2 separate regions of the Homo sapiens genome follow, and region 2 is linked to region 1. A link means that fine-mapping ties the variant in region 1 to the expression of a gene that starts in the linked region. Tissue or cell type: monocytes after LPS. Region 1 holds a variant in brackets; the other region holds the start of a gene. All regions are shown on one strand. Distances are between the middles of the regions.

Evidence for each region. PIP is the estimated chance that this variant, and not a neighbour inherited with it, causes the effect.
Region 2: CD101 starts here. The variant in region 1 is fine-mapped to the expression of CD101 in monocytes after LPS (Quach 2016, PIP 0.95).

The regions. Positions count from the first base shown.
Region 1 is chr1:117,130,195-117,138,302 of GRCh38, forward strand. All of the region lies in intron 1 of LOC124904387 (a long non-coding RNA gene), which reads left to right. It also overlaps the pseudogene RPS15AP9. Among named protein-coding and RNA genes, the nearest start is that of TRIM45, 12 kb to the left of the region's middle. The variant G/GTGTACGTA (reference allele first, on the strand shown) is at 3,940.
Region 2 is chr1:116,997,534-117,005,641 of GRCh38, forward strand. CD101 (CD101 molecule) reads left to right here and starts at 4,227. Exons shown (of 10, transcript NM_001256106.3): 1 at 4,227-4,327. The coding sequence starts at 4,285.

The DNA.
Region 1 (8,108 bases):
TTCCAAGAGTACATCTCTCCCCTCACCACCCCACCCTCACCTCCTTCAGACTAGGTTCCAGCCACCTACAAGCCCAAAATTCTTTGACAAATAGCCAGAAGCCCACTCCCAGGCCCATGCAGTTGTAGACTGCAGGGTAAGTGTGCACACACTTAGGCCTCAGGAGTGGTGAAAGGACAGCTTTTGGGGATGGTGGAACTTGATCAAGCCTGTTGGAGTGTCCACACACATATGCAAGGGCCTCTGGTAGGATGGAGAAAGATGAGAACAGGCCATGGGCTGGATGCCCCTGTTTGTCCTCTTGCTCATGGCCACTCAAATATTAGGGGTAGGCCTGCCTCCTATATTAAATCTAGTTTCTCCACATATTTAATATAATTTAAACCAGCACTAAGTGAACGCCAGTATTATGCCAGACACTGTGCTGGATATTTTCAAATGCATTACCTCATTTAAATGTTATTCTTCCATAAGAATGCTCAGAAGTAACTTACCCAACTTACCTAAGGGCAAGCAACTGAGAAGTTAAATGCATAACCCGTATCCTCAGGCAGTAAGTACAGTACCAAAATACTGGTGTGTGTGTGTGTGTGTGTGTGTGTATGGTATGTGTGTGTATACATACATATATACATATACTTTTTCTTGAGTAAATAATGTATCTGATAAAAACATGCAAACAATTTACAAGAATATAAGTAAATAGTAAATCTCCCGTGCCAGGCCTCGAGTCAGAGACAACCAGTTAATAATTTTTTTAATTAAAAATACCCACATATTTTAAAATTTATCATCAATAATTTTTAAACTTTTTTATTTGGGAAACTTCAGATATATGATATATACAAGCATAGGGAAAAGTATAAATAACCCCTAAGTACCCCTCACTCAACATCACCAGTTACAGCATTCTGTCACTCTTGTTTAATATACTTCCCCAACTTTTATGTTGTTTTCTCTGCTGGAGGTTTTCAAAGGAAATACCAGATATCATGTCATATTATTAAATTATATTAAAATATTAGATACTTAATTTATAAAGGTTTTGATGTAAAGATGGAAAATATTTTGAATTTTCCATGAAGACCTCTTAATTTAAAAAATGCCACATAAGATTATATATGCCATATAACATTTTACCAATGTTATTTAAATTTATTTATGTATTTATTTAGAGATGGAGTCTCGCACTGTTGCCCAGGCTGGAGTGCAGTGGCGCAATCTTGGCTCACTGCAACCTCTGCCGAGTTCAAGCAATTCTCTTGTCTCAGCCTCCCAAGTAGCTGGAACTACAGGCGCACACCACCACACCTGGCTAATTTTTGCGTTTTTAGTAGAGACAGGGTTTTGCCATGTTGGTCAGGCTGCTCTCGAATTCCTGACCTCAGGTGATCCACCTGCCTCAACCTCCCAAAGTGCTGGGATTACAGGCCTGAGCCACCATGCCCAGCCCTAATTTTTAAATATTTAATGTTTCCTCCTTTGTTCCAAAGGACTCACGGGGGAGTTAGGCAATAATAATTTTGTGACTATAAATTAAACTTAAACGTGCATTCCACCTCATGCCATGCAGTTTTCTCTGCAGAATTCTGTGAGACTGTGTCTGTTTTTATTTTATAGTCCGTCCACTTTTTATCTTTCTTTCCCTTCTTTTGGAAGAGCTGTTGAAAATGGTAAGCAAATAAATGCCATTTTTTCCTCACTTCTCTGAGTGATAAAACCTGAAAATGATGAATATATAAGGGCAGACTATGATTTAATGTAGTGCCTTTTCTAATTCAAATGACAACTAACTTTTCTGAGCTAAAGTGTGCCCATGTCGTGATAATAATATTTAGAGGATGAGTAGGTTATAATATATCATGGCATACAGAGAGGTCTATACATTAGTTCCAGGAATGTTGCTAGGAAATATTAAAAAAAAAAATGTTCCTAGATGCAAGGAAATATAAATAATCCCCACCAACTAGGGCAAAGCCTAGGTATTTATTTCTATATTGACAGCAACTATTTTTTTCTTAAGTACCTATTTTCTAGATGGCATTTAAATCTGCACTGCATTTTAGTAAATTTTTCACTTTTTTGCACAGTGTTCAGGACCTGAAAGCTCCTTCTCCTATTATTAATGAGGAGTATATGATGTCTTCAGGAAATTCTGAAGTAATAAAAGCCCTTCTATTCTTCAGTGTTCCGTGCCCCTCTTTTAGGCAGAATCCCGTCAAGAAAATCTTTGGAACAGTACTGTCTGGAGCACTGGACTGGGGAGGGCCGGGTGAATCTCTGTGTTTGAGGAGCTGAGAAGCAACACTCTGGGTGGAAAAAAGGCTCAGAGACTTGTTTGGAAGCTGCATTTGCAGAGTAAAGCACTTTTTGATATATGCATCTAGTGTGGCCTGGAGCAATGCTGATAGAGATTGTGAGGTAGGAAGAGTCTAGGTGGGTAAAGTCCCTCCAAGCCACCTTTGGTACTGCCATTGCTCTAGACCTGTGTTGTCCAATATGAGGACTTCAAATGTGTTTGGTCCAAATTAAGACAATGCTGTAAGTGGAAAATGCACACTGGTTTTGGAAGATTCATTATGGAAAAAAAGAATGTAAAATATCTCGTTAATAATGTTTTATATGAATTGCATGTTGAAATGATAATATATATGATATATTTTTATTTTTATAGCTTTTAAGGTATAGACTATTTTTAGAGCAGTTTTAGGTTCACAGCAAAATCAAGCAGTTTTCCATTAGAAAATTTACAACTTATCTTACGTGTATATGTTATTACTATATTAATATTCTTTCTAAAAACTAATTGTAATAGGAGTTCATTCTATTATATTCTGATTTATTCCTTCTTTATGTTAGATCTGTTTATCTCAGACATTCTAAGTGGGAGCAATATTGCCCCTAAATGGACAGAACTTGGTTCTTGGATTGTTAAAAAAAATCCTACTTTTAAAAAACATTTTTTATTTTAGATGGGAGGTTACTGTGTCACTCAGGCTGGAGTGCAGTGGCACAATTATAGCTCACTGCAGCCTTGAACTCCTGGGCTCAAGCAATTCTCCTGCCTCAGCCTCCCAAGTAGCTGGGACTACAGGTGCACACCACTATCCCCAGCTCTTTCTCTTTTAGTGTACAAAGCACAGATATATATGTAGTACAAAACCAGAGATAGATAGATAGATAGATAGATAGATAGGTAGATAGATAGACAGACAGACAGCTAGATAGATAGATGATAGATAGATAGATTAAAGTTTCCTGAGGGGTGATTAGGAAAAAAAAGAGTCTAAAATTGTTCCTTAGGGGGTTGGTCATGAAAGGCTGACTAACACTGGTTTATCTACACTAGATATTCTTAGAGTGTGTGCACATAACAATGGAACTTTTTAATGAACTATCAATCTCCAAAGTTTCCTAAGGAGGGAAAAATGTATAAAATAGATGAAAGTATAGAAAGATTTACATTTGCAGATTAGTGGGAAGGAAGTATCTGAGGAGTGTTAGAAATCTCTACCACTGGCCGGGTGCGGTGGCTCTTGCCTGTAATCCCACCATTTTGGGAGGCTGAGGTGGGTGGGTCACCTGAGGTCAGGAGTATGAGACCAGCCTGGACAACATGGTGAAACCCTGTCTCTACTGATAACACAAAAATCAGCCAGGTGTGGTGGCATGCACCTGTAATCCCAGCTACTCGGGTGACTGAGGCAAGAGAATCGCTTGAACCCAGGAGGTGGAGTTTGCAGTGAGCCAAGTTCGTGCCATTGCACTCCAGCCTGGGCAACAAGAGTGAAACTCCTTCTCAAAAAAAAAAAAAAAAGAAAGAAAGAAAGAAAAAAGAAAAAGAAAAAAGAAAAAAAGAAATCTCTACCACCAACTAATCACCAGATGTTAACCTTTTTGCCAATTCATTTCTCTCTGTGTGTGTGTGTGTGTGTGTGT[G/GTGTACGTA]TGTGTGTGTACATATGTGTGTGTACGTGTGTGTATTATCTAGGTGAAGCAAACATAAATGTTCTTTGCATTTATTTTTTCAAATGTTTTCTAGGTGTGAAATTTTTCCAAATGATAGTTGGGGAAAGGCTGGGCACGGTGGCTCATGCCTGTAATCCCAGCACTTTGGGAGGCTGAGGCAGGTGGATCACAAGGTCAGGAGTTTGAGACCAGCCTGGCCAACATGGCGAAATTCCATCTCTACTAAAAATACAAAAATTAAGTGAGCGTGGTAGCTGGTGCCTGTAATCCCAGCTACTCAGGAGGCTGAGGTGAGAGAATCGCTTGAACCTGGGAGGTGGAGGTTGCAGTGAGCTGAGATCGCACCACTGCACTCCAGCCTGGGCGACAGAGCGAGACTCTGTCTCAAAAAAAAAAAAGGGGAAAATGCCATACTTCCCCACACCCTCTCTCTACCCATTCCTGTACTCCAGTTCTATACTGGGGTCCTATGGAACCACAGTTTCTTGGTAACATGTTTTCTTTCACTTCTAGATATTTGCATATATTTCTCCCTCTGCAGGGAACATATTGTCTGGCCTCCCACTTTGTCCTTCACACACAGCCTTTGCCTAGATAACTCCCAGGGGTCTTTTAAAGTTTCACTCCCTCCAGGAAGCCTTTCATGATCACCTAACCCCACTAAAGTCTGCGTTAAGACTCTCATATATATTTCCTTTATTGTAATTGTTCTTATTATTGTCCTTGTCATACAATATTATACGTGTACATTAAACTTGTCTGTTTTCACTGCACTATGAGTTCCTTAAAAGCAAGGATTATGATTTATCTTATTCATTCTTTGTCCTCTGAAACTATGACAGGGCATCTCACAATATTTATTAAAGTAATAATTGATTTTTCAATAAAATGCATAGTTGCTTTATATAACCCCATTCGAAAGGAAGGAAAAAACAAGAAAAAGGGGGGAAAAAGAAAACTTTGATGTTTTATTTGGTTTGTAAAGCTTTACTGATGACAACAGCATAATTTCAGGTTAGACTTTTATAAAATATTGAAAATAGCTCCTAGATCGCATTAGCCATGTAAAACTCTGGGTGAAATATCCCTGACAGTCCTAGAAAAAATTGGTTGGTTGTTTCTCTCAGCTCCAAAAGAGCTGTTTCTGCCTCTGTCTTACTCTGCAGGAGGTGCGGTAGGAGGTGGGAAGTCGGGGAGAGTGGGGATGGTACAAAGATGAAAAGTAAGGGAATGGTTTTTCAGGAATTTGGAGTTTAGCAAGAGAAACAGACTCATGAGTGATACTAACAGTTCTACCTTACATATGTATCATGTTTTTTGTTTGTTTTTGTTTTTTTTTTGTTTTTCTTGCAGTTTACAGTGCAATTTCCCATCATTTATTCCTCAAAAAGCCCTTTAAAGTAGGCATTATTAGCCCCATTTTAAGGGTGATTTTAATATAAGCCAGGATGTGCCATGAAAGTAAGATGTTCTTTTTTTTTTTGTTTTCTTGAGTCCAGGCATTTCTCCTGTATCTAGCGTCCATCATTTAAAATCTACCACTCCTTACCATATTCTACACCTTTCCTTTTGTATAAAAGTGTGAGGTATAACCCAGGCTGCAACTTCAGCCCTCAACAGCAGGAACTATTGTCTAATGAAAGATGTACTCCAGATGGAAAATTTCTCAAGTGAAATGGATGGAATTGGTAAATCCATTGTTTTCTAAATTAGCAAATATTTGGGTATGTAATAATATACATTTATTCAAGACAAAGGCTATGATCACAGCTTTTCAAAATATGTATGCAAACGGATGAGGACTAAAGCATACACATTTTGATCATTATTAGGGAGGTGGATTTAGGAGTAATTATTTTCTCCATAAATTAAAAATCGTCAATAATTTTTAGCTTATGTACATACCCAAGTTCTTTTGCACATTAATTAAAGAAAGCTGAGAATCACCTATTTTCAGTCCTAAAGGATTCTTGGCTTATTTAACCCACTAGGTGAGTGGCCATTTTCTCTCTGTCTTCCCAGCTCCAATCAAGACAATCTTCCCACCTTCTCTCAAGAACATGCATAGGACTTTGCCAGAATTATTGGATCAAACCACCGCACCATGACACATTGACCTGGGAAAGAATTGTTTATTTCTCAACTTGATCACTCTTCTGTTTTGAACCTGCAGGCGTAATGAATGCTTGCTCTCCTCTTCCTGAAGCAAATTACTTGTATTTTTGTATTATCCCTTAAAGGGGTGGTTCTCGGGCAGGGGTGGTGGCTCATGCCTGTAATCCCAGCACTTTGAGAGGCTGAAGCAGGCAGATCACCTGAGGTCAGGAGTTTGAGACCAGCCTGGCCAACATGGTGAAACCCCCGCCTCTACTAAATATACAAAAAATTAGCCAGGCATGGCAGTGGACACCTGTAATCCCAGCTACTTGGGAGGCTGAGGCAGGAGAATCGCTTGAACCTGGGAGGCGGAGGTTGCGGTGAGCCGAGATCGCGCCATTGCACTCCAGCCTGGGCAACAAGAGCAAAACTCCGTCTCAAAGAAAAAAAAAGGGTGGGGGGTGGGGTGGGGGGTAGGGGGTAGTTCTTGGATCACTAATTGGAAGTATGAAGGCAGGAAGACTAGTTGAGAGTCTGGGGCAATTGTTCACCTGAGCGATAATGCAAATCTGGGCAGAGTCCTGCAGGCCTCTTCTTCCCATACCTGGCAGGGAGCTGGCAACATGCACATGTGGCCACACCCATGTGGTCACCCTTTGTGTTGCAGTTTCAGCTGATCAATAGTTCAATGACATTTGTATGTAGGGAGGATTGCCTGACCCTCCTACAATGGCTGTTCGGGAGGTGGGATTATTCCTTTTCTTTATCTGAGCAGATATACATCTGAAAGGCCCTGGAAGTCCTTGGAAGAACAACCTAATAACAGCTCCTGAGCATTGGGGGTTCCAATTTCCAACAGGGCTATTTCTTCAACTGAGGGCTTGCATAGCATCATGGTTGCCTACTTTTCCTGCAAATATAATATAGACCATTACTGTGGGGAAGGGTCACTCTCTACTGGAACACTTGAACCTGATGAGTCCAGTACAGCTATACCCAGCCTAAGTGCTATAAGGGCCCAGAGATTACCCTGCTCCTTGAAATCTGATTGTGTTTCCCCAGAAAAGCCCTCTTTTATGTTTACACTACGTAGCTCTAGAAGTAAATGTGTCTGTATCCCTTTTGCCTGACTGGCCAGCACACAGGTGTTTTCAGTCTTCAAGGACTACAAAAAGTTAAGGGTGAAGGAAAGAAAACACACACACACACACACACACACACACACACACCGGTTTCTATCCTGAGAGCCCCAGGACAGAAAAGATTGTAATCTACCTCTAGCCTAAAAACATCCCTAGCACTCAGCAATTTAGTTTAGTCACATGGAGACAAACTGCCCCTTTATCACTCAATTCTCCTCCTTTGAAGATTGGACCCACACTGGTTTATTTTTTATCTTTTCATGATCTATGGTCTTTTGTAACATTTAAAATAGTAACCTGTGGTTTGGGGAGGCCATTAGCCAATTCTGTTCCCTTAACAGCATCTACCTGCTGAGCCATTGTGCTCTAGTTTTTAAGTGTCCTCTGGCCTGGTTTGCTATCAGTAGCTATTTGGACAAGACTTTCTGTTGTGCCGCAGCTGTTCAAGCATTAAACATCTATTCTTGGTCAAATGGAGGGAAAAAAGCAAAGTTCATGTTTTTTCTTTTGTGGTTCCTTGATGTTCATTCGCTCTGACCACCACACGTACTTAATAATAGCTAATTTTTATTAGTTCCTTCATATATGCCCATGTTATGGATGGAACTGTGCCCCCGCCCCACCCCAGATTTATATGTTAAATTCCTGACCTCCAGGATACCTCAGAACATGACTCTATTTGAAGATACAGCCTTTAAAAAGGCAATTAGGGTCAAATGAGGTCATTTGGGTGGGCCCAAATCCAGTATGGTGGGTGTCCTCAAAAGGGGAACTCCATGTGCCCTCCCTTCCCATCCTCCTTCCGCCATCTCTACATGCTGCCATAATGGAATGCATGAACGCCCTGGCTGATGCTCTCAAGAACATCAACACTGGAAAAGGAGGCAAATGCCAGGTTCTTATTAGGCT
Region 2 (8,108 bases), 130 kb before region 1:
GTCAATGCTTATTTCTAAAATAATTCTCTTTTCAGTGCACATGGCAGATTGATTGCATTGATGGCCTCAGTTTGTTTGTGTTAATCTCTCCCTTTGCTCTATCACTTTGTAGTTCCCCTCCATAAAGAGGCAGAGTATATATTAACCCATCTCTTGCCTTTGGACTTTCATGTGGCTTGCTTTGGCCCATGGGATGGTAGTGGTCATGATGTAAGTAGAAGCTTTAAAAAATGCTGTTGTGTTTCCACTAGTTCTTTTGGACCCCTGACATTACCATGAAAATGTGCCAGTCCAGCCTGCCAGAGAGATGTGAGAGACATGTGGAAGAGAACTGAGTCATCCCAGCCAAGGCCATCCTAGACCATCCAGCTCCTGTCAGCAGGACACAGCCCCATTAACAGAGCCACCCAGCTGACCCATAGGCTTGTCAACAGAAATAAATGTTTGCTGTTGCAAGCCACCAAAGTTTTCTGATTGTTACACAGCAGTAACTACTCCATTCACCACATTTGCTTAAAGTGTTGGTGCCTGGGGGTGACCCCCAACTTCTGCAACTAAAATGGTGAATAAATTCCTGTAACTTGAGCCTCACTGATTTTATAGTTAGTAGCCTGGAGAGTTTGTTCGAAATCTCCATCCTAGGCAGACTGCCCTTTAATTGTTCCCAAAATACAATCTGCACATCCCTGACTCTGCCTCTGCCTCTGTACATTGTATTTGTCCACACTGAAATGTCCTTCTCCTTCCTGCCCATTTGCATCATACTAGATGTCCAAGGACCAATTTTAAAACCAGGCTCTTCTGAATGACTTACTGCGACTGTTCCCTGCCTTTTCAGCCTATTAATTCAGGTTATTTCTTGCCTGAGCTATAGATCGGATACCAGACCCATGTTTGCCGTATATGGCTGCTGTTTTTTTTTTTTTTTTTATCTCAGCTGTTTATTAAACTAGACCCCAAGTTCCTGGAGGGCAGGGCCCTCTTACACCTCTTTTATCCCCCAAGCCTTGCATAGTATCTTGAAAAGGGAAGTACAGGGCCTTTCACTTAAGACTTCAATATTTGTAGTTTGACCATCACTGGAGGGCTAATAGGTATCATTGCTAATGAATAAAACCAGAAGAATGGATGAGTGAATGGAGGGATGGATGGATGTATGGATGGATAGATAGATAGATAAAGTTAGATGCCTCCAGACCTGAATTTGTAGAATGTACCCCATTCTACTATAATTCTCACTAGGAAAATAAATTTTACTTTAAAATGCCACCTTTCCCCTGAAGATTTTACTGACCTCCCATTCATTCTCTCCAGATTAGACATGCCCTCTTCCTTCTCTGATATCCCTATGTGACAGTCAAGTTCTTACCTGCTCACCTCCACCATGCCACATGGCACAAGCAGCAGCTCCTTCAGATCAAAGGCTGCAGCTTAATTATGTCCTTAATGGATGTCCAGCACATGGTAGGGTGCTTACTGCACAGGGAGTATTCCGTAACTATTTGATTATTTTATCTATCCCACCTCTGTCTTTATTTATTTATTTATTTTGAGATGGAGTCTCGCCCTGTCGCCCAGGCTGGAGTGCAGTGGCGTGATCTTGGCTCACTGCAAGCTCCGCCTCCTGGCTTCATGCCATTCTCTTGCCTCAGCCTCCCCAGTAGCTGGGACTACAGGCGCCCACCACCACACCCAGCTATTTTTTTGTATTTTTAGTAGAGACGGGGCTTCACCATGTTAGCCAGGATGGTCTCGATCTCCTGACCTCGTGATCCGCCCGCTTCTGCCACCTAAAGTGCTGGGATTACAGGCATGAGCCACTGCGCCCGGCCTCTGTCTTTATTTTAAATGCCCTACTTCAGGCCCTTATTATTGCTCATAGAGACAACTACAAAAACCTTGTAACTGACCTTCTTGCTTCTAGCCTTGTCTCCCTTCTTCACCTTTCAACCTGTTAGCAATGCACACATACAGAATTCAACTTAAAAGGAAAAACGGAAAATCCAACCAGGCTATACTACCACTAAAAATCTTCATAGCTTCCCTCTTCTTTGAGGTATTAATAAAAGCCAAGCTCTTAGGCTTGGCACACGAAGCCCACTAAGATCTGCCCATCCTACCTGTATAGATCCTTCTTTCACAACAACCTCAAACTTCATTCCAACAAGATAGTACAGCCTGTGTGTTACTATTCATGCCACACGGTTTTTCCCCAACTGTACCTTGGCCCCCTGCCTCTCTAGATGACTCATTGACTCACCTGGCCCAGCCCAATCCATCTTGACCTTCCCTCCTGCCTACCAATTTTCCCCACCCCCTATAGGTGCCCCACTGATTGTTGACACATTGCATTGTGATTATCTGATTTAAGTGGAAGCTTCCTGAGAACTCTAGCACTAGCGTAGTATTAGTCTAGGTTCAGGGCCAACTGTTGCATTTAGATACTCCTCTGCCATCCTTGATACCTGGGTTCACATCGGTGTAACTGCCCATTAGCGTAACTGCCCAACAGGTTTCTCCTTGCCTGCTGCCCAGATAGAACAGACTTATCAAGACAGGAGAATTGCAATAGAGAAAGAGTTTAATTCACACAGAACCAGCTAAATGGGAAACCAGAGTTTTATTACTCAAATCAGTCTCCCCGGAAATTCAGAGACTGGAGTTAGTAAGGATAATTTGGCAGGCCAGGGAGTGGGGAGTGCTGATTGGTCAGGTAGGAGATGAAATCACAGGGGATCAAAGGGGGTTCTTGCAGTCTTCCGTTCCTAAGTGGGATCAAAGAACTGGTGGAACCAGATCACCAGCCTGGATGGTGTCAGCTGGTGCATCAGGATGCAGGGTCTGAAAAATACCTTGAGCACCAATTTAGGTTTTACAATAGTGATGTTATCCCTAGGAACAGTTGGGGAGGTTGGAATTGTGTGGCCTCTGGCTGCATGACTCCTAAACCATAATTTCTAATGTTGTGGCTAATTTGTTAGTCTTACTAGGGAAGTCTGCTCCCCAGGCAAGAAGGGGGTTTGTTTCCAGAAAGGGCTGTTATCCTCTTTGTTTCAAAATTAAACTAAGCTAAATTCCTCCCAAAGTTAGTTTGGCCTACAACCAGGAATTAACAAGGGCAGCTTGGAAGTTAGAAGCAAGATGGAGATGGTGAGGTCAGATCCCTTTCACTGTCATAACTTTCTCACTGTTACAATTTTTGCAAAGGCAGTTTCACAGGGCAGATGAAGATTTACTTAAATGTCTCATGATGGTGATGATGGTAGCTAATATTCATTGAGCAGTTACTATGTACCAGATATTGTTCTAAGTGCTTTAAATAAATTAGCTTGAAACTATCATTCTCAGCAAACTATCTCAAGAACAAAAAACCAAACACTGCATGTTCTCACTCATAGGTGGGAATTGAACAGTGAGAACACTTGGACACAGGAAGGGGAACATCACACACCGGGGCCTGTCATAGGGTCGGGGGAAGGGGGAGGGAAAGCATTAGGAGATATACCTAATGTAAATGACGAGTTAATGGGTGCAGCACACCAACATGGCACATGTATACATATGTAACAAATTTGCACGTTGTGCACATGTACCCTAGAACTTAAAGTATAATAATAATAAAAAAAAGTAAAATACAAAAAAAAAGAAATAAAAAAATAATTAAAAAATTAGCTCATTTGGCATTCACAGTAATCTTACAGGGTACCTACTATTAGTATCCTCATTTTAGCAATGAGGGTTAGGAAAAGTTAATTAAGTTTTCTAAGATTGCACAGTTACTAAAACTAGAATCTGCATGCAAACCCAGGCAGCCTGACTCTAGAGCCTGTAACCTTCAGCACCACCTCATGTCGCCCCAAGTTCATGTTTTTCAGGGGCCTTCTCCCATTTCTCAGTCATTTCCTCTCTCAAGAGAGGAGGAGAAGGAAGGGCCAAGAAGACAACATTGCTGGTGCCTTTTTTATTTATTCAGTTTACCTAAATTCTCTCATCATTACCAAATGACACATACTGTGAGCCAGGTTGAGACCCATCTTTTCTTAGTTTTATCGATATCTGTTTACTTAACCACAAAGATAACTTTTTTACTCCCAAATTTGAGTGATTAGTAAAGAGCTACATAATGTAACCAGTTTTGCTTTTCACAAGACATCTCTATTTCTCAGTGGGCTGAAAACCACACTTTTGCTTCCTCTTTACTTTGCAGTGAGAGCACAGCATTTGTCACTCAACCTCTGAATGTTAGTGACACTATTGGGACGAAAAAGGACTGTGCTGGCCCAAATGGCAGGCATCTCATATGTGGCATCTTTCTTTCTCCTTCTGAGTAAGTTTCATAATCCTTTATGTTTCTCTTGTCACAGGAGTTCATCAACTCAGGGTGCTGAGTGATGGAACAGGACAATTTGGTCTCTACAGGAACAACTATGCCATATATTTCTGATGTTAGCAATAATTTTTGACTTACTAATGACAGTTCTTGGCTTACCTAGACATCCTTGAGTTCCAGGGAGTCACAATGCTTGGTTGAGTCCCATGCACAAGATTCCATTGGTTTTAACATTTGTGTGTGTTGCCAGATCTGTCAGTTTTGCTTGGCCCTGGCTTTACTCATCTTCCTGGGCCGATCATCCCAAGAGACAGTAAAAAAGCTTTGTGTCCCAAACTGAGAGGAGACCTTAAGGTTTGCCTGATATTAAGGCTTGATGGGATAACTATGCCTTGCAGATATGACTGGATGGAAAGAAAGGTTATGAAAGTACTTAGTAGTTTTAGACTATGCTAAAAGAAGGTTCTAGATTTCACCTGCGAGTGGAAGTGGAAATTGACTACTGAGAGACTGAGAAATGAACAGGAAGATTCACTTGGCTCTACTGAGGGCCATGCAGAGGGGCTTGCCTGATCTAGGGGCATTTATCTATGTTTGAATAGGATGGAAGAAGAGAAAATTTGGAGGTAGAAGGGAGAGTCAGATGAGTTGAGCAGGTAATGGAATAGTTTCAAACCAGATAGCAGGTACTTTTTATGCTACAGTTTTCATTAACATCTGGTAAAGAGAATAGACTCCATCTCAGAATAATGTTTAAAATGCATAAAATAAAATGCATAGAATTACAGAGGAAATCAGTCACATTGAAATACAGGTATCAAAATATTTTAAATAAATTATAATGCAGTAATTTATTTGCTTCTTATTTATGCATTACATAACAAAATCTACAGGTAGGTCTTTTAACCACCAAACTTCAAAGTAATGATGAGTATAAATAACATTTCAATATATCTTAAGTAGTTGTAATGTGATATGAAGATATCTGTGGTTGTCTACATACATAACTGAAGAAAATACTAAATTTCCATTAGAGGCAAAAATGAAAATAAAGATGTAAGATTATTTTTCACCCTAGTTTATGGACCCTTTAATCCTACATGTGGACCCAGTTAAGAACTCTTGCTTTATAGCTGGGCATGGTGGCACATACCTGTGGCCCTAGCTACTTGGGAGGCTGAGGTGGGAGAATCGCTTGAACCTGGGAGGTGGAGGTTGCAGTGAGCCAAGATTGAGCCACTGCACTCCAGCCTGGGTGACAGAGTGAGATTCCATCTAAAAAAACAAACAAACAAACAAAACTCTTGCTTTAGAGAGACTGGATGGAGCCAGTGCAGGGACCCGAATGGCTGGGATGATTGGGGAACTAAACCAAGCTGCATTTGGTGTGACCAGGACTATGGCTGAAGAATTAAAAGAAAAGAATACAGCATTCAGCACAAAGAGGTTGCTTAATAAACATTGATTGAGTTGAATTGTGCTCATGTCTCTAGGTACATATGATAGTGTGAGGTTAAGAGTCAGACCTAGGGCCTGCAGGGGAAGTTACTGGGACCACTTGCTGGGTGACGGATGCCTGCCAGACTGGCTTGGCGGGTGTTGATGGATAGGTGCACTGGTGGGATCCTTTGGGGGCTGGTGTGTTTTTGTTGTTTGGTTAAGTTGTCTGAGTGTGATTCTCAAGTGTATGTGCTTTGTGTATTTGAATTCTATGTTTGCTATGTATATAGGAGGAAACTGGGTTTACATTGTGCAATAATTCATAGAATTGCAAATTCTGTCTCTTTTTTTGGTAAGCAGGCTAGAAGCCCTGGGGGAAGGAAAGTAGTAATCAAGGCTCAAAAAGGGGAAGCTGGAAGCTTTTCCTTAACCCATTTAAACAATTACCTAAACTGGGTTATACATTTACTTCTTCTAAATTCTGACTCATCTGAAGCACTAATTTTGTGTAGAAGCACAGTTTTTATGTGAAGAATACATAAATCAGGAAGTTACTGGAAAAAGCTTTAGAAGTCTGCTGTTTGTCCTTACAAATATAGAGGGGAATTGAAATAAATTATTTAAATAACGATCTATTGATCAATTACATTGGTTAGCAAATTTACACTTTGTCCCAATTTTTTTTTAGTAAATATAAGGACTGAACAATCCTGATAGAAAATGGTGCCATATGAGATTAATGTCATGGGTAAATGAGTTCTCGGATTTAGCAGTTAGCTTTGTCTGCTTGATCTATTTCCCCCACCCAAACTAGCTGCCCTACAAATAATGGCCATTAATATGGCAGGGTTTGGGGGAAGGGCTATTGTCTGTCTTACTGAGTTTGCATTCATGAAAAATAAAAAAGATTCCACTTAGTATGGATGGAAGCTATCTCAGCCTCCAAGCATATAGGGTTTTTGAATGTGAAAAGAGAAAGAAGCTGCTTGTTATGTTGGCTATTCCTGAGGTAGGTTTTGTATAAGGTAGCATTATTTGAAACTGCTGTTTTTTTGGTATAAAAAGTGCTCAAGTATGGACCATTTTATACAGTTCAACCTAATCGTTTTCATTCAAATAATACTGCAGTGGTAAATTTGACAATTCCAGTGATATTTTTAAAGAAAGTCAATACCATCGAGGAATTTTTGGTGTTTTGAAAGCATGATTCTAATGTTAGTATGTCAGTGCCAAGCTTTGTACTCATCAGCCAACAAGAATATGAGCTACTATTCAAAAGTAGCTAACCCTCTACCCATTAAAAGAGAGAGCAAGAGGGCAGTCCTCACAGGTGTTTTTCGGAGGGTGGATGATATGTACTTGAAAAAACCCAGAGAGAATATATTTATAGTAAGATGCTTAAGCTTATGGCCCCAGTGCATAGCCATTTGAGTTGATCTCTGCCAGTCATGCCTTCTACCTGAAAAATACCTTTGAAATCTCCACACTATTTCTTTCACTTTTCTCAGAAAGTAGTATGTCTTAGACTGTTTGGCGTGTTGTAGCAAAAGTACCATAAACTGGGGCGGGTGGGGGAGGGGGGCTTATAAACAACAGAAATTTAGTTTTGGAGGCTGGGAAGTCTAAGATCAAGGCACTGGCAGTTTGGTGTCAGTGAGGGCCTGTTCCTCATAGCACCTTCTAACTGTGTCCTCACGTGGCAGAAGGGGCTAGCGAGCTTCCTGGACTCTTTTACAAGGGCATTAATCCCATTCATGAGAGCACAGCCCTCATGACCTAATTGCTTCCTAAATGCCCCATCTCCTAATACCATCACCTTGGAAATTAGGTTTCTGCGTGTGAGTTTTAGGAAGACACAGACGTTGAGACTATAACACAGCACCCTCCCTGTCATCCCTCTACTAGGACATTACTTCATTCATCCTCCTTGCTGGCTTCACCCATTCTCCATCCCACCCCTTCCTACCGCTCCTCACCTAGCTACTCTTTCTAGCTGCCATCCTAATCTTCATTTTTCCTTCTCCATGAAACTCCTGGAAGTAGGTTCCACTTCCTGCAGTCACTTCTTACCCTGAAAACTGCTGCTTCCACTCTATTGAAATCCCTTTTACAAAGATCTTCATGGACATCCTCCTCATCGAGCTAACAGGAGTCTCCTCTGCCTTCAGAGTCCCCAACCTCTTGGCAGCCTTTGGCAGTGCTGACAAGCCCTTTCCTCTTAGAATGTTCTTCCCTTGATTTCCAGCCGCTGTGTCCTAGTTGCCCTCCATCTAACTCTTCCCTCTGTAAGTTTTGTTCCTTATCCCATCCCCTAAAGAGAGAAATTCCCTAGTAATCT